Homo sapiens: one gene and its partners. The protein of the gene in region 3 purifies or fractionates together with the protein of the main gene of each other region. This does not show direct contact. Each region holds a gene or a part of one and is shown on either strand. Other genes may lie near its edges.

Region 1 (6,902 bases), on a different chromosome or scaffold from region 3:
ATAATAAAAATATTATAAAACAAACACAGTCACAAATAGCCACATCAGACTGATGGGACGCCACACCGTGCACAAGCATCATGTGTTCTTAGAACAAGGCCCTGCGCAAGCATCTTCCTGTCACACACATCTTCCCGTCACCACAGACCACCAGCCCTTCAAATGTAAACGTGTGCAGGAGTAGCCTGGGGGCCTTGCTAAATAAAATGCGGCCTCTGATTCAGTAGCCTTGGACAGGACCAGAGGTTCTGCCTGTTCTGATGAGTTCCCAAGTGAGGCGGACAGTGCCAGTCCACAGACTCACACTTTGAGATACAACACCTGGGCCGTTGTGTCCAAATCCACTTGATAACCTGGAGCACTTATTAAATATCCAAATTGCCAGGACTTTCCTCTGGAAATCTGGATTCAGTATGTTTTGGTTGGAGCCTTGGGCATTTGGGAAAACTAGAATTTCTTTCTCTCTCTTTAGACAAAAGTCAACTACTGTTGAGGCATGGGCTTAATAAATGTTGACTAAAATATCCAACTCAACGACCAATCCTGTACAGTTTTCAAACGGTGTTAGTAACTTATTTGCAAATAATAAGGAACAACTTATTCCTCATCACACTGAGGAGCCGTGTGACCCATCGTGCTGGATCAGAGATGAACACCAAGCACGCTCCTAACACCAATGTCACCCTGAACGTCAACAGGAAACATTGGCCGTGGAGAAGTTGTTTAAACCTCTTGAAGCATCTTGCCAACGACGAGACTTCAATAATCCTCCTTTATTCACAAAAAATTTAAAACCAGTGGCAACAACGGCACATTACTTAATAAAGCAACTAAGTTAGAAGTGCAAGACACTGATTTATATGCTGTTGATAGGTCTGGAGAGACAGGACCATTCACTAGGCTGAAAAGGTGGTGGCCATCTGGTATCTTCCTAAAAAAGTTTATCAGGGTCCTGGCCAGGCGCGGTGGCTCACGCCTGTAATCCCAGCACTTTGGGCCGGCTGAGGTGGGAGGATCACGAGGTCAGGAGTTTGAGACCAGCTTGACGAATATGGTGTAACCCTGTCTCTACTTAAAATACAAAAATGACCCCAGCGTGGTGATGCACACCTGTAGTCCCAGCTACTCAGGAGGCTGAGGCAGAAGATTCACTTGAACCCGGGAGGTGGAGGTTGCAGTGAGCCGAGATTGTGCCACTGGACTCCAGCCTGGGCAACAAAGTGAGACTCTGTCTCAAAAAAAAAAATAATAATAATAATAGAAAATAAAAAATAAAATAAATAAATAAATAAATAAATAAATAAATAAAAAGTTTATCAGGGTCCTAATCCTTTCCCAGAAGGCAAACTAAAGCCTGGAGCAAGACAAGGTCTTCTCCAAGGCCACACAACTGTCAGTGACAGAGGATTCAGTTCAAAGTCCTGTCTTTTCAGGCCTGTGCCTACAAACCAACCGTTAATCTGAGTATTTCAACCTGGCCAAAGGCAACACAAAACACCCAACCCTATATTTTTGGGAAAGAAAAAAACGGGGGCAACTGAGCAGACAGACAGAGGCAAGTACAATGTGGCCTCCTAGATAAACCTCAATGCGCTTATTTCTTTTGGCACAGACACTTCCTTCTTAATTTTGAAGGAAAGTCACATCACATTACATTCTATCTGTCCCTAAGAATTAAACCCTGTTAGGTGAGCCAAACTTAAACACATTAAATTCTACAAATAGGCCAGGCACAGTGGCTCACGCCTGTAATCCCAGCACTTTGGGAGGCCAAGGCGGGCGGATCACCTGAGGTCGGGAGTTCGAGACCAGCCTGACCAACATGAGAAACCCCCGTCTCTATTAAAAATACAAAATTAGCCTGGCGTGGTGGGCCATGCTTGTAATCCCAGCTACTCGGGAGGCTGAGGGAGGAGAATAGCTTGAACCCAGGAGGCGGAGGTTGCGGTGAGCCGAGATCGCCCCATTGCACTCCAGCCTGGGCAACAAGAGCGAAACTCCGTCTCAAAAAAATAAACAAACAAATAAATTCTACAAATAGCCATTAGAATTATTAGGATAGAAAACGATGATGGGTACTAACAGATTCACTCAGAAGGAGTGGGCAGCTAATTCACATTATGTGTAGCTCTGGCTTGGAGAAGACACAGGGCTTGGAGGAGGCAAGACTGTTCAGCATGAATTAAAATTGATTTATGAGCTTGCTGTAGCACTTGGAATAGAAAAAAGAATCTTTTCAGCGCCTTTGACCCCTCTCTCAAATTACACCAGGGTGCAACTGAGGAACAACAGTGCCGACCACCCACTTTTCTCGACCCTTGGGGAAAATAACTTTTTTTTGGAAGGGAGAGTCAGTAGATGAGGCTGCATTTTCCACCAGGGAACACGAACTGCTGCGGGAAGATCCCAGCTTCTGGCTAAAGGAGCCGCAGGCCAGCTCGCCATCCAGTCCCCAGAGCCCGGGCTTTAGGTAAAGCGTGGAGATGCAAATCAGTTTCGCCGCCAAGGACCGGCCAGGCGCGTCTCCTCCCGGGCCTCGCAAGGAACAGGTCAGGGAGACGACTTCCAACTTTCTTGGCCGGACCCTAAACGTTCACCGCCCCTGCCCAGCCGCCCACTCCTGGGCAGCCAGCAAGTCTCCATTCACAAGCGGCTCCATGCTGCCCAGCACTGGCGCCCCTGAGGCGCGGAGCCCCGCAGCCAAATGACAGGACTTGGGGGCAAACAAGGACAAAAGTTCCCACCAGGTGGGCACTGCAGGAAGGAGGCCGACAACCCCGAGATTCTCCGAGTCCCGCGGCACGTGCGCTGCGACGCTGGCCGCTTCCCCCGCCGCTCGGGAAGGTCACGCCGCCCGCACACCGAGGCCCGCCCCGCGCCCCGCTCCCCGCTCCCTCTGCCTGGCGCGCTCCCCGCAGCTGCAGGCGCCAGACCGGGCTGCGCTCACCGCCGCGCCGGCGTGGCCGCGTCCAGCTCAGGCTCCGCCGCCCGCTCTCGGCTCCGGGTCGCCGGCTGGGGCGGCCACTTAACACCCACGTCGGCAACGGCCGGCCCTTCGCCCCTCCCTTCGCGCAGGCATCCCGGACTGCGGCCCCGCGAAGCTCAGGAGCGCCCCTGCGGCTGGCGGGCGGCCTGCCCAGGGCCGTGCCCGAGCCGAGACCGGGAGCCGCCACCGCCCACCGGCCCTGCCACCGCCCCCAGCACGGGAAGCGGAAGTGGGCGTGGGGCCGCGGCGCGCACAGCCAGCCCGCGACCCGGCGTGGTGCTGCCGCCGACCCTGGTGAAGGTGGAGAGCGGGGCCTGCGCCTCCGGAGACTTTCCCACCTCTGGGATCCCCGAGACCCTCTCTGAGGCCGGACCCTTGTTAGCCCGCTGGGCTGGGACTGGGGGCTGGGGGCTGGTAATGTCAGTGGTTGGGAGGACTTACTTTTTAGCTACTTTGACCTTGTTGGGAGGCTAAGGCCTTATTTATAAATTATATTTGAGTACAAAATTATACTCGGGATCCAAGGCCCTAATAGGAAATACAACTAAGTATGAAAATACAGGAATTAGCCGGGCATGGTGGCTCACGCCTGTAATCCCAGCACTGTGGGAGGCCGAGGTAGGCGGATCACCTGAGGTCAGGAGTCCAAGACCAGCCTGGCCAACATGGTGAAACCCCGTGTACTAAAATTACAAAAATTTATCCAGCGTGGTGGTGCGTGTCTGTAACCCCAGCTACTAGGGAGGCTGAGGCAGGAGAATCGCTTGAATCTGGGAGGTGAAGGTTGCAGTGAGCCAAGATTGCATCACTACACTCCAGCCTGGGCTACACAGCGAGACTCCGTTTCATAAAAACAAACAAACAACGACAAAAAAAAAAAGGTGTGGTGACACATGCCTCTATTCTTAGCTATTTGGGAGGCCAAGGCGGGAGGATCGCTTGAGGCCAGGAATTGGAGGCCGCAGTGAGCTATGATGGCACTGTTGCACTCCAGCCTGGATGACAGAGACCTCATCTCTCTCTCTCTCTCTCTCTCACCCACACACACACACACACACACACACACACACCCTCCACACAGTGTAATTTTATTTTACAACTTTAAGCCTTGTTTAGATGTGCTGTTGGATTATTATTTTTTTCTTTTTTTTTCTTTTTTTTTTTGAGACAGAGTCTCACTCTGTCACCCGAGCTGGAGTGCAATGGTGCAATCTCAGCTCACTGCAACCTCCCCCTCCTGGGTTCAAGCGATTCTCCTGCCTTAGCTTCCCAAGTAGCTGGGATTACAGGCATGCGCCACCACACCCAGCTAATTTTGTATTTTTTAGTAGAGACAGGGTTTCACCACCTTGGCCGGGCTGGTCTCGAACTCCTGACCTCAGGTGATCTGCCTGCCTCGGCCTCTCAAAGTGCTGGGATTACACGTGTGAGCCACCACGTCTGGATGTGCTATTGGATAATTACCTACGTTATTTAAGTGATTTAATTGGTGTTAGTGCTTAACATGAATGCACACTTGAGTAGACCTCCCAGGCTGTAGTAGATGCTATGATGGGATCAGAGTGCCTGGTACATGGACACTCATCAGAATCAGCACTTTAGAACTTGGGCTTCTGGACTGTAATCGAGTTACAAAAACAAGCCAGGGAGTTGGGATGACTTGTCCAAAGTGATGGGGAACATAACTAACTGAAAGCAGATCCAGCAGCTGAAACTACAGTTACAGCAGCTTAAAGGGGTTGGCAATGTCACCTGGTCCAATAGCTTTTGCAGCTTCAGAAAATGAGACCCAAAGGAACCCTGATTAAGGACAGACTTGGCTGGGTGTGGTGGCTCATGCCTGTAATCCCAACATGTTGGGAGGCTGAGGCAGGAGGATTGCTTGAGCCCAGGAGTTCGAGTTGAACCTGGGCAACACAGTGATGTAACTGCCCAATGGGTTCTTCTCGCCCGCTGCCTCAACTGAGCCAATTTATCAAGATGGGGGAATTGCAATAGAGAAACAGTTTAATTCACGCAGAACCAGCTGTGCAGGAGACCAGAGTTTTATTATTACTCAAATCAATCTCCCCAAGAATTCGGGGTTTGGAGTTTTTAGGGATAATTTGGTGGGTAGGGGGCCAGTGAGTGGGAGTACTGATTGGTCATGTTGGAGATGAAATCATAGGGAGTCTAAACTGTCCTCTTACGCTGAGTCGGTTCCTGGGTGGGGGCCACAAAACCAGATGAGGCAGTTTATCAATCTGGGTAGTGCCAGCTGATCAATCCATCAAGTACAGGCTCTGCAAAAATATCTCAATCTTATCTGTGATCTTAGGTTTTACAATAGTGATGTCATCCTGAGGAGCTATTTGGGGAGGTTTAGAATCTTGCAGTCTCCAGCTGCATGACTCCTAAACCATAATTTGTAAACTTGTGGCTAATTTGTTAGTCCTACAAGGCGGCCTAGTCCCCAGGCAGGAAGGGGGTTTGTTTTGGGAAAGGGCTGTTGTCGTCTTTGTTTCAACGCTAAACTATAATCTAAGCTCCTCCCAGAGTTAGTTGGGCCTACACCCAGAACAAGGACAGTTTGGAGGTTAGAAGCAAGATAGAGTCAGTTAGGTCAGATCTCTTTGACCATCATAATTTTCTTGGTTATAATTTTTGCAATGACAGTATCAGTGAGCCCCTGTCTTTACTAAAAATCAAAACAAAAAAAAATTTTTTTAAACCTGGTGTGGTGGCGCATGCCTGTAGTCCCAGCTACTGGGGAAGCTGTGGCAAGAGCTCTTGAGCTGTGTTCATGCCACTGCAGTCCAGCCTGGGCGACTGAGCAAGACCCTGTCAAAAAAAAAAAAAAAGGAAAGACCCTGTTATAGATTAGAAAGAGCACTGGACTTGGGGCCAGGATGTTTGTGTAAATGTCCCTGTGTGACCTTTAGTGAGTCACTTAGCCTTTTGTAAACCCCAGCCACAGCATGACTGCATCACTGGTTCCTTTGAACCCCCTGTGTTCCATCAGCCTGCTGGAACAGTCCACCATGCAGGGCGCTTGGTACTCTCCTCGAGCCATTGGGCCCTAGCCTAGTGCTTTCTCTTGTCTTCCTTGAGCCCCTTCCTCTCCTATCCTGACAAGGGCTGTTCCAAACTCTCATCACTCCCAAGCCTTCCACATTTCTCCTCTCCATGCCTCCCAATTTGTTCTATAAGAAACTATCGGAATTTTGCTCAGATTTTTAATCCATAGTCTACAAAGTTACCTTTTTTGGGTTTTTTGCACAAACTCTCATTTATTTGTCTTCTGTCCAACTTAGTTGCTGTGTCCCCTTGCCTAGCCCAATGGCTGGTGAGAATGAGGTTGGAGAAGAAACCAAGGTGTTGGGAGGCCACATTACACAGGCGCTAAGAGAAAAGCAGGGACTCAGCAAAGTTCTGTCCAACTCCAAAGGTCAGGCGCTCAGCTGGTACACTGTGCAGTGCTCCCTCCCAGAGGCTTTTTTTCTTTCTTTCTTTGAGACGGAGTCTTGCTCTGTCGCCTAGGCTGGAGAGCAATGGCGCGATCTCGGCTCACTGCAACCTCTGCCTCCCGGGTTCAAGCAATTATCCTGCCTCAGCCTCCCGAGTAGCTGGGATTGCAGGCGCCCGCCACCATGCCTGGCTAATTTTTTTGTATTTTTAGTAGAGATGGCGTTTCACCATGTTTGCCAGGCTAGTCTTGAACTCCTGACCTCAAGCGATCCGCCTGCCTCGGCCTCCCAAAGTGCTGGGATTACAGGCATGAGCCACTGAGCCCAGCCGAGGCTTCTTATTAAAAGCAAGAGGTGCCAGATGTGGTGGCTCACGCCTGTAATCCCAGTGCTTTGGGAGGCTGAGGCGGGTGGATCACAAGGTCAGGAGTTCAAGACCAGCCTGGTCAATATGGTGAAACCCCGTCTCC
Region 2 (7,878 bases), on a different chromosome or scaffold from region 3:
ATTATGGGGGACTTGGGGGAATGGAGAGATGTAGGGCAAAGGACCCAAAGCCGCAGATATGTGGGGTGAGAAGTCTAGAGATCCGAGGCCCAGCATGAGCCCTATAGTGGCAACATTGTATTAGATCCAGGAAATGTGCACAGAGTAGATTTTCCATGCTCCTATCACACAGGCCCTCTCCCCGCCACCCCACACACAGAGGGTAACTGTGGGAGGGGATGGATATGAGAATTTGCTTGATAATCATAACTATCTCACTGTGCATAAGTATATCAAAATATCATGTTGTACACTTTAAATATAATAAAAAGCATCTTATTACACAACATAAGTCACAGGGAATGAAAACTGTGGGAACCTAAAGTACCCCAGCCATTGTGACATTTCGGGGGAGCTGTACCCACAGAAGGAGAAGGTGTGCCTGTCTGAGCCCCTCACAGGCCCGCACCTGCTTCTGGAAACGCCACTGCTGATTCCCATCAGTCATGGTGTTTACAGCTCCAGGCAGGATCATCACTGGAGCTGACTTGCTAATTTCTGAAAAGCCAGTATTTCTTTTCTGGAGGATGTTCATATGCCAATCTCAGGATTTCCTGTGCATGAAGAAATGAGGACACAGTGTGGAAGCGTGCTTGCCTGAAGCTTTGTTTTGTTTTTTCATCCTGGCTCCAACCCCAGGCGGCCCTCCTCTCGTCGGGAGAGGAACACTGGCCGAGTCACAGCCAGTCGTGCTGACTGGATACAGGTGCGTAGGGAGGGCTCCAGGTGGGGACTGTCCCATGTGTAGGAGAGGAATCCAGGGACAGGGAGAGGCCGAGTGGGCAGCAGAGGGACAGGCCAGTCGGACGCAAAGCAGGAAGTGGAGCTTCCTCTTCCCATTGTCATCTGGATCCTCCCGCTCCGTGTGGGGATCCTCACAGTCACACCTCTTTGAGCCAGCTGGTGGCCAGCCTGCGCACAGGAGGGACCTCCTGGGGTCCCCAAGGGAAGCCACACACACAAGGCCCCAACTCAGCTGCTCTCCCAGACTCTCTCCCCACTTTCTTGGCGGGTGCAAAGGGATGGAAAAAAATCTGAATAACTAATCCTAAGTAGTACAAGTTATGCCATTTCCCCCAGAGAAACCTCTTTCCTCTAAACTCTGAAGGCACTTAGAGCCCATACCAGTTAGTGCTAAATTATTTTCCCTTTTGGCCCGTTTACTATTGGTTCTTCACTAATTTGGTCTCTCCAACTCAAGTCCAACTTCCTAGAGGGCAGAGGATGGCATGATTTTAGTACCATATCTCCCCACCACCCCTATATCTAGTACAGCTTAAATACATGAAGTATATAATTTAATTAAAACAGGCTGAAAATACATATATCATGACATCCTATCCCAAATATATAATGTTCGTCAATATGAGCAGGTATAATAGAGAACCTTGGCGTGGATAGGCTTGTTTTGAAAAGCAGCAAAACCTCAAGCAGAAGCTGCTACTAGCACATGTGGGCTGAGGAAGTCTCCCGGCTGCAGCCTGGCCTCTATGGCCAACCCTCTAGGAGCCATTTGCACTGGGTGGGATCAGGGTACATTGCTCAGAACATTGTGGGTGATGGCCCTGGGACCGAACGTGTCTCAGGAGAAATCCAATTCCTGATTCTACAGGTAAGTGCCTCCAGATGCCTGCATCACAGTTACCCAGGGCCTACCCACCTCAAGGCAGAGTCGGGTATCCAGATGACTAGAGGCAGCAAAGGACACGATTCTGGAGTTAGGGTTGGGGAATGGCCCCATTTTCCTTCTTTGGTAGAAGTCAACACTCCAGGACACCTGAATGGCACCAGAGGCTGCCACAAGGGCCATAGCAGTGACAGCTGAGACTAGTCCCTGGCAGAAGCCAAGAACTCTGCAGGATCAGAGAGGTGCCAGAGAACCTGACCATGGAAATGTTTTTGTCCTGCTTGTAGTAATAAACCGTCTTCCACCCTTGATACCAAAAGGAATAAGCAGCAATCTTGGGCTCAATGGCTCACACCTGTAATCCCAGTATTTCTGGGGCAGAGGTGAGCGGATCGCTTGAGCCCAGGAGTTGGAGGCCCGCCTGGGCAACATGGTGAAATCCCTTCTGTACCAAAAAAAACCACAAAAATTAGCTGTGCCTGTAGTCCCAGCTACTCAGGAGGCTGAGGTGGGAGAATGGCTTGAGCCCAGGAGGCGGAAGTTGCAGTGAGCTGTAATCACACTGCACTCCATCCTGGGCAACAGAGCAAGACCGTCTTAAGAAAAAAAAAAAAGCGGCAATCTTCTCCAAGGATCAAGGGAGGGTGCCATCAGTTAGTACTTTCTAAAGCTGTGTCACCATCTCTTTTTAGCCCACTTCCCCTCCCCGCTCCCCATCCCTCAGTCAAGTCCCTAGGATCTGAGTTTGCTTTTGGAGCTTGAACTGGCCTTGAGCTCAGAGACATCTCTCTGCGGACCCTGCTTCTCTATTCTACATCTGTCCCAATAGTTGGAGCAGGGGCTGGAACAGCTTAAGGTGAGCAGCAGCCACCTGTTCCCAAAAAACCCTTAGCTTGGATTATCAGCAGACAGTGGAACATCAGTTTCGTACACATTTTGTATTTCTCACCCCATCTGCAAACCTTTCCTTTGAAGAGTATTCCAAGAATGGAACCCAGAGCTCCCCAGAAGCACACTGTTGCTTGGGTTTGGACTAGAATTTAATGTTCCCTCCAACTCTAGAGAATCCATGATGTGTATCTTTACACCAGATGCCACTAGGAGTCTTCCTGTCCCTTATCATTTTAGTTAAGAAGTGACTCATTGCTGTCATCCTTGCTTCACAGAGGGAGGAACCCAGGCTTCAGATTCTGCCCTTTTGGAACGGAAGAAGGAGGGAGAGCGGGGAAAGACCTATGTGTGCAGCACTATGGAGACAGTTCACTATGTCGGGTACAACACATTCCCTTAGTCTCATTTGAAAGCCATGATGAACAGAGAGGTGTGGAAAATCTAAGATCACAAATATGCCATGAGAAAGTATCTTTGTCTCTACTGCTACTTTACAAAACCACGTCTCTAACTGCTAACACTTCAAATTCCCTCAAAATAAGCTTCTTTTCCCAATTGTCCCTCACCACCAACTATAGTCATGCTCTGAAATTATTATGGAAATTTAGCATCTGAAAGGAACAGGAAGTTATAATTAATTCCTAATTAGAATTGGGCACAAGCTTTTTTTTCTTATTTTTTTTTTAATTTTTTTATTGTGACAGAGTCTCGCTCTGTCGCCCAGGCTGGAGTGCAGTGGCGCGATCTCCACTCACTGAAAGCTCCACCGTCTCCCGGGTTCATGCCATTCTCCTGCCTCAGCCTCCCGAGCAGCTGGGACTACAGGCGCCCACCACCATGCCCGGCTAATTGTTTTGTATTTTTAGTAGAGATGGGGTTTCACCGTGTTAGCCAGGATGGTCTCGATCTCCTGACTTCGTGATCCGCCCGCCTCGGCCTCCCAAAGCGTTGGGATTACAGGCGTGAGCCACCGCGCCCGGCCGGGCACAAGCTTATTGTTTTTCTTCTACCTTTTCTAAATGTACCCAATGCTCTTCATGTTTTCTGCCAGATGTTCTAGTCACTGCATGATGGGATTGTTACTTTTGCTGCTTCTCTGGACTCCTCACTCTTAGTCATTTTAAATATGGTCAAAATGACAATCTTTCTTACCATATTTGATATATAACTTTCAAAAAGAATAAAACTTAGCACCCTCCTATTAGTCCTTATCTAAATGGAAACTTATTAGCAGAGCATCAAGGGCCCAATAAAGTGCCCCCTCTTTTGAAACTTATCTCTACTCCCTTTCATATATTTCAATCATGTCAATTTCTTATTGTTCTTCTAAATAGGTGCTGATTACTAAACTCTATTCGTGGGTTTTATTTTTTATGTTCCTCTCCATTAATTAATATTCTTCACTGACTTTAAGACTTCACGATTCATTCTTTTAAAAGAACGTGTTTGATTTCCTCCACTGTTAACTGCTAAATATCTCTCTGATATATTGTTTTCAGGCTATCTTTCTCATCTGGAGTAATTATGTTTCAAGTGTCAGGGGGAAAATACCTTTTCTATCCTGTGCAAAAACTCATGCTGGGCACTAAGAGCATGGAGCATGTCCCAGTTATCTATTGCTGCATAACAAACCAACCCAAACTTAGCAGTATAAAACAACCACTGCTTTAGTATGCACATCAACTTTCAGGGTCAGAAATTCTTTTCTCCTTCATGTATAGAGTCTCAGCTGGGAGTGACATAAATAGGTGGAGACAGACCTCTCCAGCCCAGTCCAGCCAACAGCCTCCGCTCCTGCGCACCCGCAGCCTGGGGCCCCAGGTTCCTGTGGTCTCACCGACCCTAATCCTCTCATCTCTCCTCCCCATTCCCTCTCCAAATTGTTTCAGAATTCCAAATTCTTATCTGGATCCGGCAAATTAATTCAGCTACTCTTCAGAGTCTCTCAGTTATTCCCAAATTCTCTCGGAAGCTTGAATTTACCTATCTAAATCCATTCTCAAAAACACATTGGCCTTTTCTAGCCGGGACATCTCCAACAGTAGTTGCTGTTAGAAACTGCAATTTCCCCTTCTCTGCATACACATTTTTATAAATTGATTTATTGGTAGGCAAATTACATTTTTAAAAAAAGGCATGTGTGGGTTTTCAGGGAAGCCTGGACAGGACGTGGGCGTGCCGGGAGCTCGCCGGAGCAGCTGGTCCGGCTCTGGGCGCCCAGCGGAACCAGGGCTGTACTCACCTGGATGCCGGACCCGCCCCCTAGAGACCCCGCCCCCTGGCGTTCGGCTACTAAAGGGAAGGGGATTCCCAGGGGGTCCTCAATCCTGGACTCTCCCGACCCCTAGCTGTCGGTCCCCCTCCCTGCGCGCGCGCCGGCGGGTTTCCTACCCTCCGAGGCGTCCGCTGGCCTGCGCCCTGGCGGGGACGTGGGCGGGGCGGGCGGCATTTAAGGCTGGTGCCACCTCCCCGGTGCAGCGGCTGGCGATCGGCCGCGGAGGTGCGTGCAGGGCCCGCGCCGCCGCCGGTATCTCCACCGCCAACACCTCAGCCACTGCCACTGCCACAGCCACACGAGGCCCCCCACCGTGCGCTCCGCCGCTGCGGTCCCGGATCCGCGCTCCACGCCCGCAGCCCGCGGCGCCACCAGCCCAGCATGCACCAGGTGCGTGCAGCCCCCGCGCCGGCCGAGGATGCGAGACGCTGGGCCAAGGCCCCGGGGACCGGAGCAGGCTGACGGGAAGCGAGGAAAAGGCGAAGAGGAGAAACGCCCCGTCCCGGGGCAAGGGGAGGCCGCCTTTCCTCTGAGCGCCCCCCGGCCTGGGCACCGCTTCTCTGACTCCCCGCCACGGCTCCGTGCGGCCGCCGGGGCTGGCTGGGGAAAGAAGCCAGTCCAGAGGAGCGAGAAGGGGCCAAGGGGTCCTAGGCCAGCTCCATGGCACCTGCGGGCTCCGACTCGGAGGATGGGGTGACATGGATTCGTTGCGGTCTGAAAAGACTTCCGGTTAGGGCCCCCTGATCAGGACTGAGGGTCGTAAGCTTAGTGGGTGCCTCCTCCCCAAGAAACAGGACGCACAGCTGTTGTGTCCCCTGGGAAGGACACCTCAGAGGAAACCTCGAGGTGCCTAAGGAACCTCGAGGTTCTAAGGAAACCTCACAGCTCCTTGGAGGCATCAGTCAGGAGTTGGGGGGGTAACTTCCCACCTGCTCCACCCAGAGAAGGGTCACCCTGAGGAGCTGCTGGCTGGCCTGTGCCCACCCCGCCTCCCCTCTACACGGACGGAGAGGAAGCCAAGGTCGGCGGGAGGTGGGGGAGAGACTCCACTGTCCGACTCCCTCCGGCCTCCCCAGAGGAGGGAAGGAAAGGGAGAAGGGGCTCCTGACTCCTGCAGGTCCTGACCCCGCAGAGGGGCGCTCAGCACCTCTTCGGAAACCCCATTTGGGGCCAATATTGCACCTGGGCTTCTCTTTCAGAAAACCCCAGAAATTTACTCCGTGGAGCTCAGCGGAACTAAGGACATCGTGAAAACAGACAAGGGGGATGGCAAGGAGAAGTATAGGGGTCTGAAGAACAACTGCCTGGAACTCAAAAAGAAAAATCACAAAGAGGAGTTTCAGAAAGAACTCCATCTGGTCAGTAGCCTTAAGCCACGGGGTCCTGCCGGCTATGGCCCTTCCCCGCAAGAGCTTGCCCCTAGAACCCACCTCTTACCACAGACATTCAGTCTGAGGGATTTGAAATCCCCTTGAGATTGTGTGTGGTGTGTGGTGTCTGCGTGGTGTGTCTGTGTGGTGTGTGTGTGTGGTGTATGTGTGGTGTGTGTGTATGTGTGGTGTGTCTGTGTAGTGTGTGGTGTGTGTGTGTATGTGTGGTGTGTGGTGTATGGTGTGTGGTGTGTGTGTATGGTGTGTGGTGTGTGTATATGGTGTGTGTAGTGTGTGGTGTGTGTATGTGTGTGGTGTGTGTGTATGGTGTGTGTGTATGGTGTGTGTATGTGTGGTGTGTGTGATGTGTGTGTGATGTGTGTGTGGTGTGTGTGTGTGGTGTGTATATGTGTGTGGTGTGTGTGTGGTGTGTGTATGTGTGTGGTGTGTGTATGTGTGTGGTATATATGTGTGTGGTGTGTGTGGTGTGTGTATGTGCATGGTATGTGTGGTGTGTGTGTAGCGTGTGGTGTGTGTGTAGTGTGTGGTGTGTATGTGTGGTGTGTGTATGTGCATGGTATGTGTGGTGTGTGTGTAGCGTGTGGTGTGTGTGTAGTGTGTGGTGTATATGTGTGGTGTGTGGTGTGTGTGTGGTGTGTGGTGTGTGTATGTGTGTGTGTGTGTTTTGAATGGTGTGATAGTATCCACCCAGAGGTCAGGGCCTCTGCAGGATTCCTGCATTCTGGTTGGAGGCAGTCCCTGTAGAACTCAGAAGGAAGAGCCTCTGATTCCAGGCCCCACAGGCATGGCCAGACCTCTCTCCCCGCAGCTGCTTCAGTGAGAGTTAAGTAACCACTTGCCAGTTTTCAATTGATTAGTAAAACTATTTGAGCTGGAACTTCTGAGGAGGAAAACCAAAGCCCCTAGGCCATGCTAGATTGCAGGTGTGAAACCTCATGGAAAAGCAGTTTCAGTGGTAAAAATGTGGAGCTTGGATTGGGAGGACCTCGGGCCCCATCAGAGTCCCACTTCTCCACTGAGCTGAAACTGGCAACAAATGACTGACCCTCACTGAAGGTCCATTTCCTTTATGTAAAATGGGAAATAAATAATTTGCTGGGGTCTATGAGGGGAAAAAATGAGATGAGGATTTTGTAATTCACGTGCTTTAGGGGAGTACAATATTATTATTATTAAGGAAGAGCTCTGGAGTTATTAAAACTAGCCTTTTTTTTTTTTTTGAGACAGAGTTTCGCTCTTGTTGCCCAGGCTGGAGTGCAATGGCGCTATCTAGGCTCACTGCAACCTCCACCTCCTGGGTTCAAGCGATTCTCTTGCCTCGGCCTCCCGAGTCACTGGGATTACAGGCGCCCGCCATCACACCCAGCTAATTTTTGTTGTTTTTAGTAGAGACGGGGTTTCCCCATGTTGGCCAGGCTGCTCTCGAACTCCTGACCTCAGATGATCCACCCGCCTCAGCTTCCCAAAGTGCTGGGATTACAGGCGTGAGCCACTGTGTCCAGCCCAAACTGGCCACTTTAATAATAAAACTGCCTTGGGTCTGAAATGTGACAGATTTTATCTTGGGAACACCGAAGGGGAAACTTCTACACGGAGCTTGAGATGGGCTGGATTGTCCCCACCGTCCTTGGCAGATCTTAAAGCTCTGTGACTCC
Region 3 (7,022 bases):
TTTCAGCAGATCAGCAAACCGCTGGCTCAGCACCTCTGAGTTAGCTCAGTGAAAGAAAAGGCTGACGCCTGCCAGTGAGCTCCGGAGGCTTCCCCTTTCTAACAAGGTCATTTCTTCAAATAGGGAGTTCCCATTGTTTCAGAGTCACTTAGATGTTCCAGGCACTAAGACAGGTCTCTCTCTAGGGTCTTCCCAATTTAGCGAGCGTAAAAACAATGGTGGAAAGGAAAAACCTGGAAACTTTGCACAGCCCAGAGCCTGGTCATGGGCCACACCCGCTATAAGGGAAGCTGAGACACATAGCTCCTAGCTGAGCAGCTACATGCCCAGAAAAGACTCGTATTACCACGAAAGCATGAGCGCAATCTCACTGGAGCTAGTAGCCTCTGCAATGCTGGGTGGGATAGGCAGGTTGTAAGTGATTTTTCTGGAAGCTGTGAACTCCGTAAAAATGTTTACTTGGATGGTCCCAGAACTTAAATTAGTATATGGTTCATGAGGATCCTTCCCCACCCCCAGTTCTGAATGGAAACTGCCACGAACAAGAATGTATCTCTTGAAGATGGCAGCCTTTGCTGACAGAACCACATGAAAGGCAGGAAGGAGATCCGGCACGCTCCCACCGTTACGCTAACGTCGCAGTATCTCCTAGGTGAACTGCATTTGTTTCTCAGATTCTTTTTAGTTTTCTTTTTCATCTTCCCTAAAAAAAATATTAATAATAAGATTTTGGGACTTGAGAAGAGAGAGAGAGAGAGAGACACGCTTCTGTGTTTCTGTGACAACACTTTCAGAGACAAGAAAAAAAACGCCCTCTGGCTTTTTCCTTGGATGTGTGACTGTCTGCCAAGTTATCACGTTTAAACCACAGACAATAGGTGGAGAGGGCCCAGGGTGGAGACTCGAGCAAAGCACTCTTCCCAAATGGCATGTGAGTTATTGACCAGCCTGCTCGGCCGCCTCTAAGAGCCTCGGGAGTAGGGGGAGTTCCAAACCTCTGGTTCAGAAATGTTCAGGTAGCATTTCTTTGTGAATGAAGGAGTCAGGAGCTTCTAGACCCCAAGACAACTTTGATTTCTCAGCATCACCATCCAGAGAGGCCTCACTACATGACTGAGCAAAGAGAAGAAGAGCTGGAGCTTCTGCCACAGGAAATGGTGGTTTGAAAATGGGAGCACAGGTGAAGCGCCGATGGCACAGACACACACTTGCCTCCTGGCTCCATCTTGTTATTGTAAAGTATAAGCCAAGTGGGTCACTTCTCCTTCCCTTTGATTCCTGCCTTGGGCCATTCAGCAGGTGACCCTGCATTCCTTCTGGTAATTTTTAAACAGAAAGCTACGTGACAGTCTTTTTCTAGATCCATTTTTGTGGACTCTCATTTAATTTAACTTAGTTCATCGAGTGCATATTGAGTGCCCTCCTGCCCTATATTGTTTCCGGTGGAATGGAGGATACAAATAAAGAATAAGGTACAGGGCCTACCTTCATGGAATTTGCAATCAAAGTGGGACTTCTACATCTTACTAGCTAGAAAAATATAATATTTAAAGAAACATATTATAATCAAGGAACTGCTACTAGAATTCCTCTTTGAAAAGGAATTGTATTTGTTTATGATAGTACCTTAATAAATGCTAGAAGGCAGGTGGAGACCCCCCAGGAATCTGGGTGTGGGTTGGATGGTTCTGTATGAGAATGGAGGAAGATGATACTTGTGCAGAAATGGGAAGAGAAAGAGAGAGTCTGAACCTGCTAGGTGGTGAAAGCTGCCTGGTTCACAATGGAATTTGCTCCCTGGGACCCTTCAATCTTCAGCAGAGAACTTAAACCCACAAAATTATTGGTGTAAGTTTTTAAAAAAAAGTTTTTTTGGTTTGTTTGTGGAAACTGATTGTATTAGTCCGCTCTCATCCTGCCAATAAAGACATACCTGAGACTGGGTGATTTATAAAGGAAAGAGGTTTAATTGGCTCATAGTTCCACATGGCTGGAGAGGCCTCACAATCATGGTTGAAGGCGAATGAGGAGCAAAATCATGTCTTACGTGGCAGCAGGCAAGAGAGTTTGTGCAGGGGAGCTCCCATTTATAAAACCATCAGATCTTGTGAGACTTATTCACTCCCATGAGAACAACATGGGGGAAACCACCCCATGATTCAATTATCTCCACCTGGCCCCACCCTTGACACATGGGGATTATTACAATTCAAGGTGAGATTTGGGTGGGGGCGTGGCCAAACCATATCACTGATGAAGTGACTAAACCTTGCACCCAAGGAAGCACAGAGTAGAGCAAGCAGAGTTATAGGAGCAAAGACTTAGAGAACCATGAGGAAATTACTCCCAGAAATTACAGAAATCATGTGCAGCTTGACCTGAACAAACTGTAATAGTAGCACTTTTTTCATACTTATCCAAATTTCTAAGAGCATGGGGTCTCTGACATTTGATTTCCATGTAAATATAATTAAAGAATAGCAACAAATGGATGAGCACCAAGTATAAAAATACTTGGGCCTACTATACAGGTAGGGAAACTAAGCCATAAGTAAAGAACAGATGGGACTGAAGCATCTCTGGACACTGGTGAAGAGACTCCTTTGGACTTAAGATCAAACTCATTTTCTTGTCTTTCCAATCAATCAACAAGAATTTACTGAGACTCTATTATGTACTGAGTACTAAGAGAGCTGTTAAAGTAGTGTAAGAGATGGTCTCTGGCCTCCTAGAACCTAGCAACTATTTGGAGAATTGAGGCTAGCAGAAGTAATTGACACTTACTGACCACATGATGGATTCCAGATATTGCTCTAGGCACTTTCCATACATTACTATATGGGTTTCTCAGAACAACACTGTGAACTTATTGTTATGCTCATTTTACAGATGAGGAAGTTGAAGCCACAGAGGGTATGAGTAGCTTATCTGTAGTCACAGAGCTATCAAGTGGTAGACCCAGAATTTGAACTTATCTATCTGGCTCCAAATACCATCACTGAAAATGGTCTGCATGGTAAAGATGATGTTGCCAAAACTCAGGTTCTAAGATACATGACATAAACCACAGGTGCTGCAGGAGTCCAAGGGACAGGGAAGAACAAGAGCTGGGATGGTCAGGAAAGGTGACACAAAGAAAGGAAGATTGGCCTGGGCATCAAGGCTAGGCAGGCATGGTGGACAGCTTAGGGTGCAGCAGGAAGGAGAGTATGGAGTGGAGCCTGGGGCCAGGAATGAGCATGTGTTGGATGGAGGATGATGAAGGATGGGTTGGCTGCTCAGAGGGCTTTTGACTCAAAAGGTTTGAGTCAAAAGGGCTTTGACATCACTACTGCCTTCTTTATGGGGACCGCATCTCCAGAGGCTAAAGCACAAACCACAAAATCTGCAGTTCCCATCTTATCCAGCTCTGCCACTGACTTTTTCTATGACTCTGGATACTCCTGTCTGTGTCTCAGTGTCCTCAAAATAAAATTAGTGGGTTGGGTGAAATAAGCACTATACTATAGTTCCCTTAAGGTTAAAAAGGTCTATGATTCATATTTGTATCCAAAGATGAGGAAAAAAATTAGAGTTTATGAAATATCTTTCAGGACCATGGCCAACTTGTCTCTCAGATCTAGATGGACTGGCAGAAGCTTGTCATAGGACAAAGGTAGCAGATTGCTTTCATCCTCTAGAGACCCTAGAAAAGATAGAGAGGGCCGGCGTTGTCATGTCCTGAAGCCTTGGTGCTGCACCCAGTCATCGTTAGTTTCTGTGAGTTGGTGGGCAGCAGAGCAACCGGCGTCGGGCGCGAGGGAGAGGAGGCTGACTCACCAGGCATTACTGGTGCAGTTTTGTCTTTTATTTTCCAGTTCAGAGGTACTACTTTGTCTGTTGGTTTTATTTTTTTAATCTCAAGTGAAATTGGAAAGAAATATTATCTTTTAAAATGATATAAATGGTGGGGGTGTTTCTTCTCAAATCAGTTGTTGTATTGGAAGTTCCCAAAGTATCTATGATAGAAGAAGAAAGAGGAACTAGTCAAAATAGTAAGTGCTACTATAATGGTTTGCTGGATCAGTTCCATAGGCTGACGAAACACAAAGTTCAGGCTACTGGCTTTGCTTCTTATCCTAGTATTAGAGTGATTTCTCCAGTGGTTCCTAGTGTCGATATCATAAACCTTGAATGAATCAATCTGTCTCAAACACACACATACACACATACACACACACACACACACACACACACACACTCCTGCACAGAGGGTTCTCAGTGACCATAAGTCACTCAGAGTGGAGCTGCTCCTTCCTCCAGCATCAGCAATGATTCAAAATGTCATGCTTTATACAAATTCAGAACTCTCTGCCTGCCTCCTAACTTTTTTTTTTAATCAGAGCATAAGACTGTTGAAGTTGGTATCTGGCAAAATTAAAACATTTAATTTAGGGGATAGAACCTATAACCAAGGTGTTTGCAAAGTCAGTTCAGTGAGATTCCTTGGGCTAACTTGATGTGTGAAAGGCCTAAGGAGAAAAAGAATCTTTTCAAATCCAGAAGGCAACTTCTTGCCAGCTATCAGGCTGGAGGCCCCTTTGGATCTTGTAGGCTGCATTTTATGAATTCATTGAGACTGTCTGTATCTTTGGTCAACTCTGTAAACATCTGATTGTGTCCACCATGATTCTTTCCTTTGGAACCCGACTATTTTTCTTTCAATTTCTGCCCCACAAATTCCTCACAGGTTCAACAACAAGCAGGCTTATTCCACAATCATCCTTATAAGTTTCCCTTACACATTAATGTTAACATCTGGTGTTACTCTATTTAGAACCTTAGTGCGAATATTCTACTTAGAACCCTAGGGCTTCAGCTCGGTCCCCACTGTTCATTACCCCGGTATAACTTTTTCCAAGCCCATAAGTCTCTCTAACTCTCCAAGAAGTCTGTCTTTAGTATTCAGCCACATTTCTACTACTAAACCAAGCTCTAGTTCTTGAGGTTCTCCAGGCTGTTTTCCTTCTCCATAAAATGAGAATAATGAGTGTACCTACCTTGTAAGATTATTGTGAGGATTAAATATGTTAGTACACATGATGCACTAAAAATATGTGGCCCATTGCAAGTGCTCAATAATTGTTCATTATAATCTTATTGAGCTACATGTCTTGTTTACTGGGGGTGATAATTCTCATTCACTGTTTGTCAAAGTGTTGCTCCTAGTTCAAAAGGATTTGATAAAGTGGGTAAAGGAGAGAAAACAATAAAAGTTTTCTCTCTGATTTTGAGCCTTGATGATTAGTTCTCGGGCTAATTTTAAACATGAAGATGATTTAGAGGAAAGACTAAATACTTTCCTTTCAGTTCAGGTCTGCTGGGTTCAACCCAGTTATTTGCATGAAAGGACAACAATAGCACTATTATGTTTATTTTTAAAAAAGATAAGTAGATCTTTCTTCCTCCCAGTGTCTCATGAGAATAGCGTGAATTCACAGGGACGGCACATGGAACCATTATATTCTCTTTACCCAAAATGGATACAGGACACATTAGCAATCTTAAGATGGAGAAACTGGGCAGAGAGATTGACTTAGGAGAGATGAAGATAATTTAATGTTAGACATGTGGTAGTTGAGTTAAAAATAAAGCATTTGGATAGAAAAATCTTCATGAAATTAAGAATGTGAAAGTATAGTGAGAGAAATTAGAATAAGAAAACAGATACAAAAATTTTCAGTGGTCTAAAGCTGACCTCTAAAACCATGAAAACAAACGTCTCCCTTGGGAGAGAATGCAGAAATAGAACATGAGGCTCCATTATCCCACTTTCATGTAAGATGTTTTTAAGCTCAGAATACTTTTGAGATTGCTCTTTGACTTCTTTTTTTTTCCAGAAACAAAACCATGGGCAGTGTATGCTGGGCTGTTAGGGGGTGTCATCATGATTCTCATCATGGTGGTAATACTACAGTTGAGAAGAAGAGGTAGGTGTCTGGCAATAAATAGATTCTTATCACACTCTCTGTGGTAAGCAGGGGACCTCTCTCCACAGGCTCGGACTTGCTCTCACAACTCTGGCTTTCTGCATGGGGCCACCTTTGCAAAAATAGTAGATAAACATATCCTGGGACCTTGCTTAATTCAGTCTAATTCAACATGTCTTGATCCCCTCTACTAGGCTGTGGAAAGAAATAGAAGAGCCACAGGTTTCTAATGTGAGAGACATTATTCAGATAATTTCAGTTTAGTGTGACTAGCACTGCCATCAGGGTAAACACAGGATGCTGAAGAAGTGAACAAGAGGTTTAAGAGTATTCACTGGGAACAGAATTCAGAAAATTATTGGATCTCATCCAAAAAGTCACCAGGGTTAGAATGAAACCAATAAGGCACAATTATTCCCCTGCAGTTGAAGTGCCTAGAGGTACCATCCCCTGTCCTCTCTTCCAAATTTCCCTATGATACAATATCTCAGGGCATTGTGCTCCCCTCAGCCACCTTGACTACTACCAACCAATACTGGAGTCAAAATGTCCTGACCCAAGACCAGGAGAGATGCCCCGGCTGCCTTCCCATGGTAAGGATAGAACTTGATCCTCATAACACTGAGCTGATGACTGATTTCATTCTCAAGTAGATCAGTGTCATCTACACACAACCTTCTTAGAAAAGCCCTTACCTCAGCACTCTGATGTTGGTTTTGCATATATAAAAAAATCTAGATCATAGCACAGCGACCTACTTGTGTCTCATTTCCTCCATCTAAGAGTTAGCCAGGTAGGAGGGATGGGTGATTCAGATAGAAATTAGGTTGACAGCCTATGGGGCTCGGGGTAGGGCAATCACATTTAGCTCATACTATAAGGAAATAGTGAGATGACCCAGGATGAGAAAACTGAACTTAACTTATCCACATTAACCTACCTAGTAAAATTGCTGGGATCCTACGCCATACTCTTTCCTCAACCACACTTGGCTTATCACATGGTTGTGCTCTAAGGGAATAGTGCTCCCCATCCCACAATTCCCCACTACCT
Region 4 (7,472 bases), about 110 Mb from region 3:
GTAATGTGGGTTATACATCTAGAATAGTACAGTAATTTCTTGGTATAGGCAAGGGATTGGCTCCAGGACCCCCATATATACCGAAATCCACGCCTACTCAAGAACCACAGTTGGCCCAGTGGAACCCACCTAGACTAAAAGTTGGTCCTCTGAATATACAGACTTCACCTCCCTTCACTACTGTATTTTCTTCTCTTTTTCTTCTTTTTTAAGAGATGGGTGTCACTCTGTTTCCCAGGATGGAGTACAGTGGCCTGATCATAACTCACTGTAGCTTCAGGTTCCTGGGCTCAAGCGATCCTCCTACCTCAGCCTCCCAAATAGCTGGGATTCCAGGTTTGAGCCACTGCGCTTGACCCACCATGGTATTTTTTTTAATCAGTGTTTGGTTGAAAAAAAAAATTCAGGTATAAGTGAACCTACACAGTTCAAACCCATGCTGTTCAAAGGTCAACTGTATATGCAATATAGCAGGGGCTCAATAATGTAATTCCCTGTCTTCCTACTTGGAGCATTTCAGTGAGAATAAGAAGGGAGTTGGGCAAATGTGGACCTCATCCTCCTTTAAGCCATACTCTACTTTTCTAATTCAATCTGTCTTTAGACCATTCCCCACTGCTGACCCATCACCACCTTCTCATTGTTTTCCCAGGTCTCCTAGAGCCACAGAAACAATATCACAATAGCTACCATTTATTGAGCACCTACTAAATGTCTAGCATTCTACAAGATGCTTTCAAAGCATTCCATCTTGCACCAACAGATGCTTGATATTCATTTCCTTCCTCCTCCAGATTGGAAAGAGATAGCCATGGGTGTGTCCACTGACAAAACAGGAACACCTGCAGAATAACATCAGTGGCCTCTCTCTTTGTACATTGTTTTACAGTTTACAAAGTTCTTTTCACCCACATTATCCTATTTGATTCTCACAACAATTCTTGGGAATGGATGAAGAAATTGAGGCAGGAGCACCAATTATTCATTCAATCAACATTCACCAAGCACCTACTATGCACCAGGACCTGTGCTATACTTTAGGGAGATGGAGAGAAACCCTAGGAGCTTCAAGCTTAGAGGGGAAATCTATTTAAATATTTTGTATAGGTTACTGATGCCTCCCTTCATGTCATAATCTTTAAGAAACTGAAGATCTATTTCTTGGACTGGAGATGCTTTTAGATTTTTGCCTTTTCCCATACGGTTTCCTCTGATAGGAACACACTTTCCTCCACTGCTAGCTAAATCCTTCATGACCAGGAAGGCTTCCCCAACCCACCCACCTCCCCCAAAATGCTTCTTCTCTGGCTCCCACAGGGCACCAGGGCTTTCCACTTCTATAGATAGGGCCTTTCACGGCTTCCATTGTCTTCCTCTGTTTATAGGCACAGAACAGGTGGACACCCACCTGTGCGCGCGCACACACACACACACACACACACACACACATCCTCTCCTTTTACTGTCTCCCACCCCTTTCCATCTGGATTCCAGGAAGCCGGGGGAAGAGGGCCCATCTTGTTTTGTGTGTGTGTGTGTGTGTGTGTGTGTGTGTGTGTGTGTGTGTGTGTGTTTTGAGGGCCCATCTTTCTCCCACCTCCTCCACATCTCTCTTAGCTTCCAAAGGCTGCTGCCCTGCCCTCCCCAAAGTTGCTTCCATGCTTGGACTACAGAACAGAGTTGGATGACTTTTTCTGTCCACGATTCTCTTATTTTCTGTGATCCCCGGTGCCCGTGTAACAAGGTCCAGTGCCTGGGTCCCCTCCTTGGACTCCTGAGTGGCCGAGACACCGCTAGTGCGTGGACACCACTCCAGCCCCCATTACCTTTCCACCCTTACACCACGACCCACACCTGGCCTCCTCCCCAGGCTGACCCAGCGCCCCACCACCCTATCTATACACTCCAAGTTCTCCCACGATTCCTCCACTTGCAGCCGCCAGACCCTACTCTATTCCAGAGCCTCCTCTCCACTCCTGACCAGAATGTAGGCCCCTGTGTCCATTTCCAAGGCCACTTCCCTGTGTCTCCACCGGCTCCCTGCCCCCTTCCTCTGCAGCAGGGTAGACCCAACCTGGCCTCTCACCCTTCCATTCTCCCAAGCTTCCCGCCCCCAAGCCCCACCCCTCGTCTTCCATCTACAGTTACCCCCACGCCGGTCCCCAGCCGGGCTCAACCTCCGACCCCAGCTATCCATACCCACATCCCCCATAAATGACCCTCTTTCGACCAGACACTGCCCTGCTGCCTTTCTCCTTCCCAGCTATCCATACCCACATCCCCACCCCCGACCCTCTCCCAACCAGACACTCCCCAGCTGCCCAGCGCCCCTTGCCCTCGGCACCTCAGTCCCCTCCAGCTCCAAACGACCCCCGCCCAGCCAGTCCCCTCCCCTCAGCTCCTCACCTCCATGCCTCCCCCCGCACCCCCGCTCTAGCTCCCCTCAGTCCGCTCCCTTCACCGCCCCCTTCGCTGCCCCTCGGCTGCCCGGTACCACCTTTCCGCACAGCCCCACTCCGCCCTCCTCGCAGCTCCCCCGCCCCCCACGCCCCCGTTTCCCCCAGCGATCCCTCACTGCCCTCCAGTTGCCCCCCATCTCTCCTCCCAGCCCCAGCGCCGTCTTTCTTGCTCCCCTCCCGCCCTTGGAGCTCCCCCGGCTGCCCCCAACGTCTGGGAGACCCCCTCGGCGCCCCCTCCCTAGGTGAGCCCCACCTCTGCCGCCGCGGAGCCCCCTCCCTCGCTCCTCCCCCGGCTTCCTTCCGCTGCCCCGCGCTCCTTCTCGGCGCCCGCTCTCGGTGCCCAGCGCCCCGCGCCGGGGATCGGTCCCTGATCCTCCGCGGGCGGGCTGCCGGGGCCGCGCCCCTTACCGCGGACTCCGAGTGCGGGACGACGGGTTCGCTCCCGGACGGTCGGCGGGACGGCAGGACCTGGCGTCGGGAGGGCGCGGAGGGGGCCGGGGCGGGGCGCTGCGGGATGGTCTGGTCCGGTCAGGTCCTCACAGTGGCGCCTGAGGGCTGAGGCTCCCGCTCCAGCACTGCTCCGCTCCGGCCGCATCCAGGCCCCGCCCAAGGGCGGAGTCTGTGTTCGCCCCGCCCCGGCCCTCAACTCCTAGCAGGTGTAATCCGAGGTGACTCAGGACCTCCAGGTCCCCCATGTCTGGGTGACTCTCGTGATTTATCTTAATTGTCATGCCTCGTTCCATTGACTGAACTTACTAGGGTAATTAGAGAGCTTTGATGATAATGTAGCTGATGATGGGTAGCAGTTTTGCCATTTCCAAACTGCTTTCTGGTCCGGTCCGTTCTATGGCTCCGTCTTCACAAAAGCCCAGAGAGGGAGGCTGACTACAAGCGGAAACCAAGCCAGAAACCTGGACGCTGTCCTCTACCCTATCTGTGTTTCCTTCACACCCCACATCCCACCGCCTTAACATATCCCTGCCCTTCCTCTGTGTCTCCATTGCCCTTGTTCTGACTCCAGCATCATCACTTCTTGCTTGGACTAATGCAACAGCTTCCTAATTCCTGCCTTCACTCTCCAATTCACCCTATAAAACCAGGACGTGGTGTCAGCATGGCCATTTCCACCCTTGTACAAAAATTCTTTCTCCTGTGGTCTCCAGTCATACCACCCTCCACCCCTCCTCATCACTGACACCCAATTGTTCCTTATGCATTAAAGATTGCAGCCCCTGGCCCATGGTCATCCTAACTAGCCCCTGTTCTGCCATACTCCTGGTGACTTCGGTAGCTGTGAGACTTCCTGGTCCCATTCATTCTGAGTCAGATACCAAAATCATTTTGACACAAGCCCGAGCAACCCTTTAAAAAATGTCACCATGTTACCATCAACCTTGTTTAAGAAAACTCTCGGCCAGGCACAGTGGCTGACGCCTGTAATCCCAGCACTTTGGAAGGCCAAAGTGGGCAGATCACTTGAGGTCAGGAGTTCGAGACCAACCTGGCCAACATGGTGAAACCCTGTCTCTACTAAAAATACAAAAATTAGCCGGGCATGGTGGTGCATGCCTGTAGTCCCAGCTACTTGGGAGGCTGAGGCAGAATTGCTTGCACCCAGGAGGCAGAGGTTGCAGTGAGCCGAGATCACTGCACTCCAGCAGTGCACTCCAGCCTGGGCAACAAAGCCAGACTCCATCAAAAACCAAACAAACAAACAAACAAAAACCTCTCAATGGTTTCCCATTACCAGGAGGCTGTCAACAGGAGTAGAAAAATGTTCTTGCCTGGCCTGGCCCTAGGAAGTCCCACTTCCACTAGAGGAGGCAGATAGAGGAGGCAATAAATACCCCACCCTCAAATCCTGATATGGACTTCCAGTCTTCCTGAGGTCACAGGAGCCAGCTGAAGGCTTGCTCTAGAATCATTGTCTTTCCCCACACTTCTCCCCCATCTCAGATCTTAGAGGTCTGAGTCAAATACCAAAACCATTTTCCCCCCAAGTTCCATTATGACCCTGTCTACAGTGTACATCTCCAGCCTAGGAACCACCCAAGCTGACAGCTCCTCTGCTTGTCTGGCCTCTGCCTCAGACGCTTACTCTTCTGAGCTTCTTGCCCAGCCCTTTCACTCACACTGCCCATCACACTGGCAGCTCTTTCCTCTGTGCCTTCTAGAATCCTGTTCTTTTGTCAACAAACTCTGCTATACCCTCTGCTTCTTCAGAGTACTCAGGTGACTTCTTTGCCTGAGCCTCCTCCAGGTACTGCCTCCTTTGCTGCCCTCTGCTAGAAGGCTTCTCATTTTTCCACTCCCCATATACTATAAAACTAGGATGTGGGGATGGCATGGCCATTTCCACCCTTGTGCAAAAATTCTTTCTTCTGTGCTCTCCAGCCATACCCCCCTCAACCCCTCCTCATCACTGACCCCCCAATTGCTCCTTATGCATTACAGATTGCAGCCCCTGGCTCATGGTCATCCTCACTAGCCCCTGTCCTGCCATCCTCCTGGTGACTTCAGTAGCTATGAGATTTCCTGGTCCCTCAGTCCTTGTCCTCCACATCACCTTGGCCACCAGCTCCCATGGTCACTCTTGAGCTCTTAATCACCCACTGCTGGTACCTCTGTAATAGCAAAATCAAACATGCTACGCTGAACTGCTCCCTCACTCTCTTTCTCTCACAAGGCCCTACTTCCCTCATTTCAAAATAGACGAGATGATAATGATTATTCTTTCTTCCTAGGAATAATGAGACAGCATATAGAGCCATCCTTTTAAAGTTGTGAGACAATATGAGAACAGATGGTATTGCTTTTATGTAGCCTCAGTTCTTCTGGTTGCTTTCTCCTTCTCCCTCCTCTGAAAGGCGGTATAGTAAATTAGAAAGGGCACACACAGGCTTGGGGCCAGGCAGACCTGGTCTTCAGTCCTTGCTTGCTGTGTGATCTTATGCCAATTACCTAATTTCTCTCGCACGCACACCCCTTCCTTATTTGTAGAAAGAGCAATAATAAGAGCTGCTTCTCAGAGTTGTTGGGAAGATCAAATGAGAACACAAGCTACTGGAGAGGACTTGATAGAGTGGTAGGCATACAGTAAGCATTCAACAAATAGGAAACACTGTGCTTCGTATAACAGAAAAAAAAAAGTGCTATTTTTAAACCACAACTGCCTTCCAGGAATGACAGATCCCAATGCACAGAAAGTCCTTTTGTCCTGCTTGGGGCCTCAATTGATGAGAGTGAATACGTAACTTTGGGAGAAGAAATTGCTCTCTATGTTTAAAAAGGGAGTAGGGGTAGGTGGGGCATGATGGCCCACGTCTGCAATCCCAGCACTTTGGGACCACCTGAGGCCAGGAGTTCGAGACCAGCCTGGCCAACATGGTAAAACTCTGTCTCCACTAAAAATACAAAAATTAGCCGGGCGTGGTGGTGGGCGCCTGTACTCCCACCTACTCGGGAGGCTGAGGCGGGAGAATCACTTGAACCTGGGAGGCGGAGGTTGCAGTGAGCCGAGATTGTGCTACTGCACTCCAGCATGGGCAACAGAGTGAGACTCCATCTAAACAAAATTAGGGGTAGCAGGAGGCAGAGGTTGCGATGAGCCGAGATTGCGCCGTTGCACTCCAGCCTGGGAAACAAGAGTGAAACTCCATCTCAAAAAAAAAAAAAAAAAAAAGGTGGGGGTGGGAGGGTTGGGGGAAGGCAAATTTGGAATTCACTTGACAAAATGGGAGGGCAAGTTAATAGAGATCGGAGGGGAAAAGGAAAAAGATGAGTAAGAAAATCAATGTAAGGATAGGTGCTACATAGGTAAAGAGTCAGAAGAAACTCTCCCATGGTAGTTGACAAGAGTGTTTCAGCAGTGGGATACCTAAAATGGGATAAGTTGTTTGTTACACTAGGACGTGACCATCCTATGTGACTCTCAAGACTTCAGGAAGGGCTATTACACCCAGGAACGCTTTTTGAGAGAGGGGAATTGTGAGAGTACATGAGTAGGGAGTTGAGCAATGTGCTTTGTTAGGTCTCAGTTGAAAAAGGAGACTGGAAGCAGAGGTAACTGTGAGACCACAAGCCCTTGTGGAACTTGCAAAAACTTGTGTAGGACTTTGCACTTACATGAGTTGGGAAATGTGAATATTGAGGTTCAAGCCCATTGCATTTGGATCTTGAAGAGGCAGAGAGGCAGCCAGACAGCGGCTCACACCTGTAATCCCAGCACTTTGGGAGGCCAAGGTCGGCAGATCACCTGAGGTGAGGAGTTCAAGACCAGCCTGGCCAACATTGTGAAACCCCATCTCTACTAAAAATACAAAAAAATTAGCCAGCATGGTGGCAGGTGACTGTAATCCCAGCTACTTGGGAGGCTGAGGCAGGAGAATCGCTTGAACCCGGGAGGCGGAGGTTGCAGTGAACCAAGATCGCACCACTGCACTCTTGCCTGGGTGACAGAGTCAGACTTGGTCTCAAATAAAAAAAAAAAAAAGCCGGGGGCGGTGGCTCATGCCTGTAATCCCAGCACTTTGGGAGGCCGAGGCGGGCGGATCACGAAGTCAGGAGATCAAGACCATCCTGGCTAACGTGGTGAAACCCTGTCTCTACTAAAAACACAAAAAATTAGCCGGGCGTCGTGGTGGGCGCCTTTAGTCCCAGGTACTCGGGAGGCTGAGGCAGGAGAATGGCGTGAACCCTGGAGGCGGAGCTTGCAGTGAGTTGAGATCGCGCCACTGCACTCCAGCCTCGGCGACAGAGCGAGACTCCATCTCAAAAAAAAAAAAAAAAAAAAAGGAGGCAGAGAGGCCACATCTGACATTTGGGTTGCATCATTTATGCCCTCATAAGCTACCTTCTTATTGACTAAGGTAACCACCTGAGGGAAGAACAACACAAATCAAATTATACTGGACTGTCTTCACTTCCAGATCCAAATGCCCAAGGAAGAATGGGAAGGAAAACAAAATTCTTTTTTTTTTTTTTTTGAGATAGAGTTTTGCTCTTGTTGCCCAG

What was found.
Region 1: the proteins of SLAMF1 (region 3) and SLC25A15 purify together in Homo sapiens (affinity purification with mass spectrometry; 2 studies listed by BioGRID and IntAct, with this or other methods). This does not show direct contact.
Region 2: the proteins of SLAMF1 (region 3) and ATP12A purify together in Homo sapiens (affinity purification with mass spectrometry; 3 studies listed by BioGRID and IntAct, with this or other methods). This does not show direct contact.
Region 4: the proteins of SLAMF1 (region 3) and RAB3B purify together in Homo sapiens (affinity purification with mass spectrometry; 2 studies listed by BioGRID and IntAct, with this or other methods). This does not show direct contact.

Annotation. Positions count from the first base shown.
Region 1 is NC_000013.11:40,785,709-40,792,610, reverse strand, and holds the start of SLC25A15 (mitochondrial ornithine transporter 1), read right to left. Parts: upstream 3,001-6,902; 5' UTR 2,948-3,000; intron 1-2,947.
Region 2 is NC_000013.11:24,675,531-24,683,408, forward strand, and holds the start of ATP12A (potassium-transporting ATPase alpha chain 2), read left to right. Parts: upstream 1-4,877; 5' UTR 4,878-5,213; coding exon 5,214-5,222; intron 5,223-6,031; coding exon 6,032-6,190; intron 6,191-7,878. UniProt on the Homo sapiens protein: The catalytic subunit of a H(+)/K(+) ATPase and/or Na(+)/K(+) ATPase pump which transports K(+) ions in exchange for Na(+) and/or H(+) ions across the apical membrane of epithelial cells.
Region 3 is NC_000001.11:160,623,043-160,630,064, reverse strand, and holds part of SLAMF1 (signaling lymphocytic activation molecule isoform b precursor), read left to right. Parts: intron 1-5,879; coding exon 5,880-5,969; intron 5,970-6,479; coding exon of another isoform or gene 6,480-6,562; intron 6,563-7,022.
Region 4 is NC_000001.11:51,987,685-51,995,156, forward strand, and holds the start of RAB3B (ras-related protein Rab-3B), read right to left. Parts: upstream 3,017-7,472; 5' UTR 2,868-3,016; intron 1-2,867. UniProt on the Homo sapiens protein: The small GTPases Rab are key regulators of intracellular membrane trafficking, from the formation of transport vesicles to their fusion with membranes.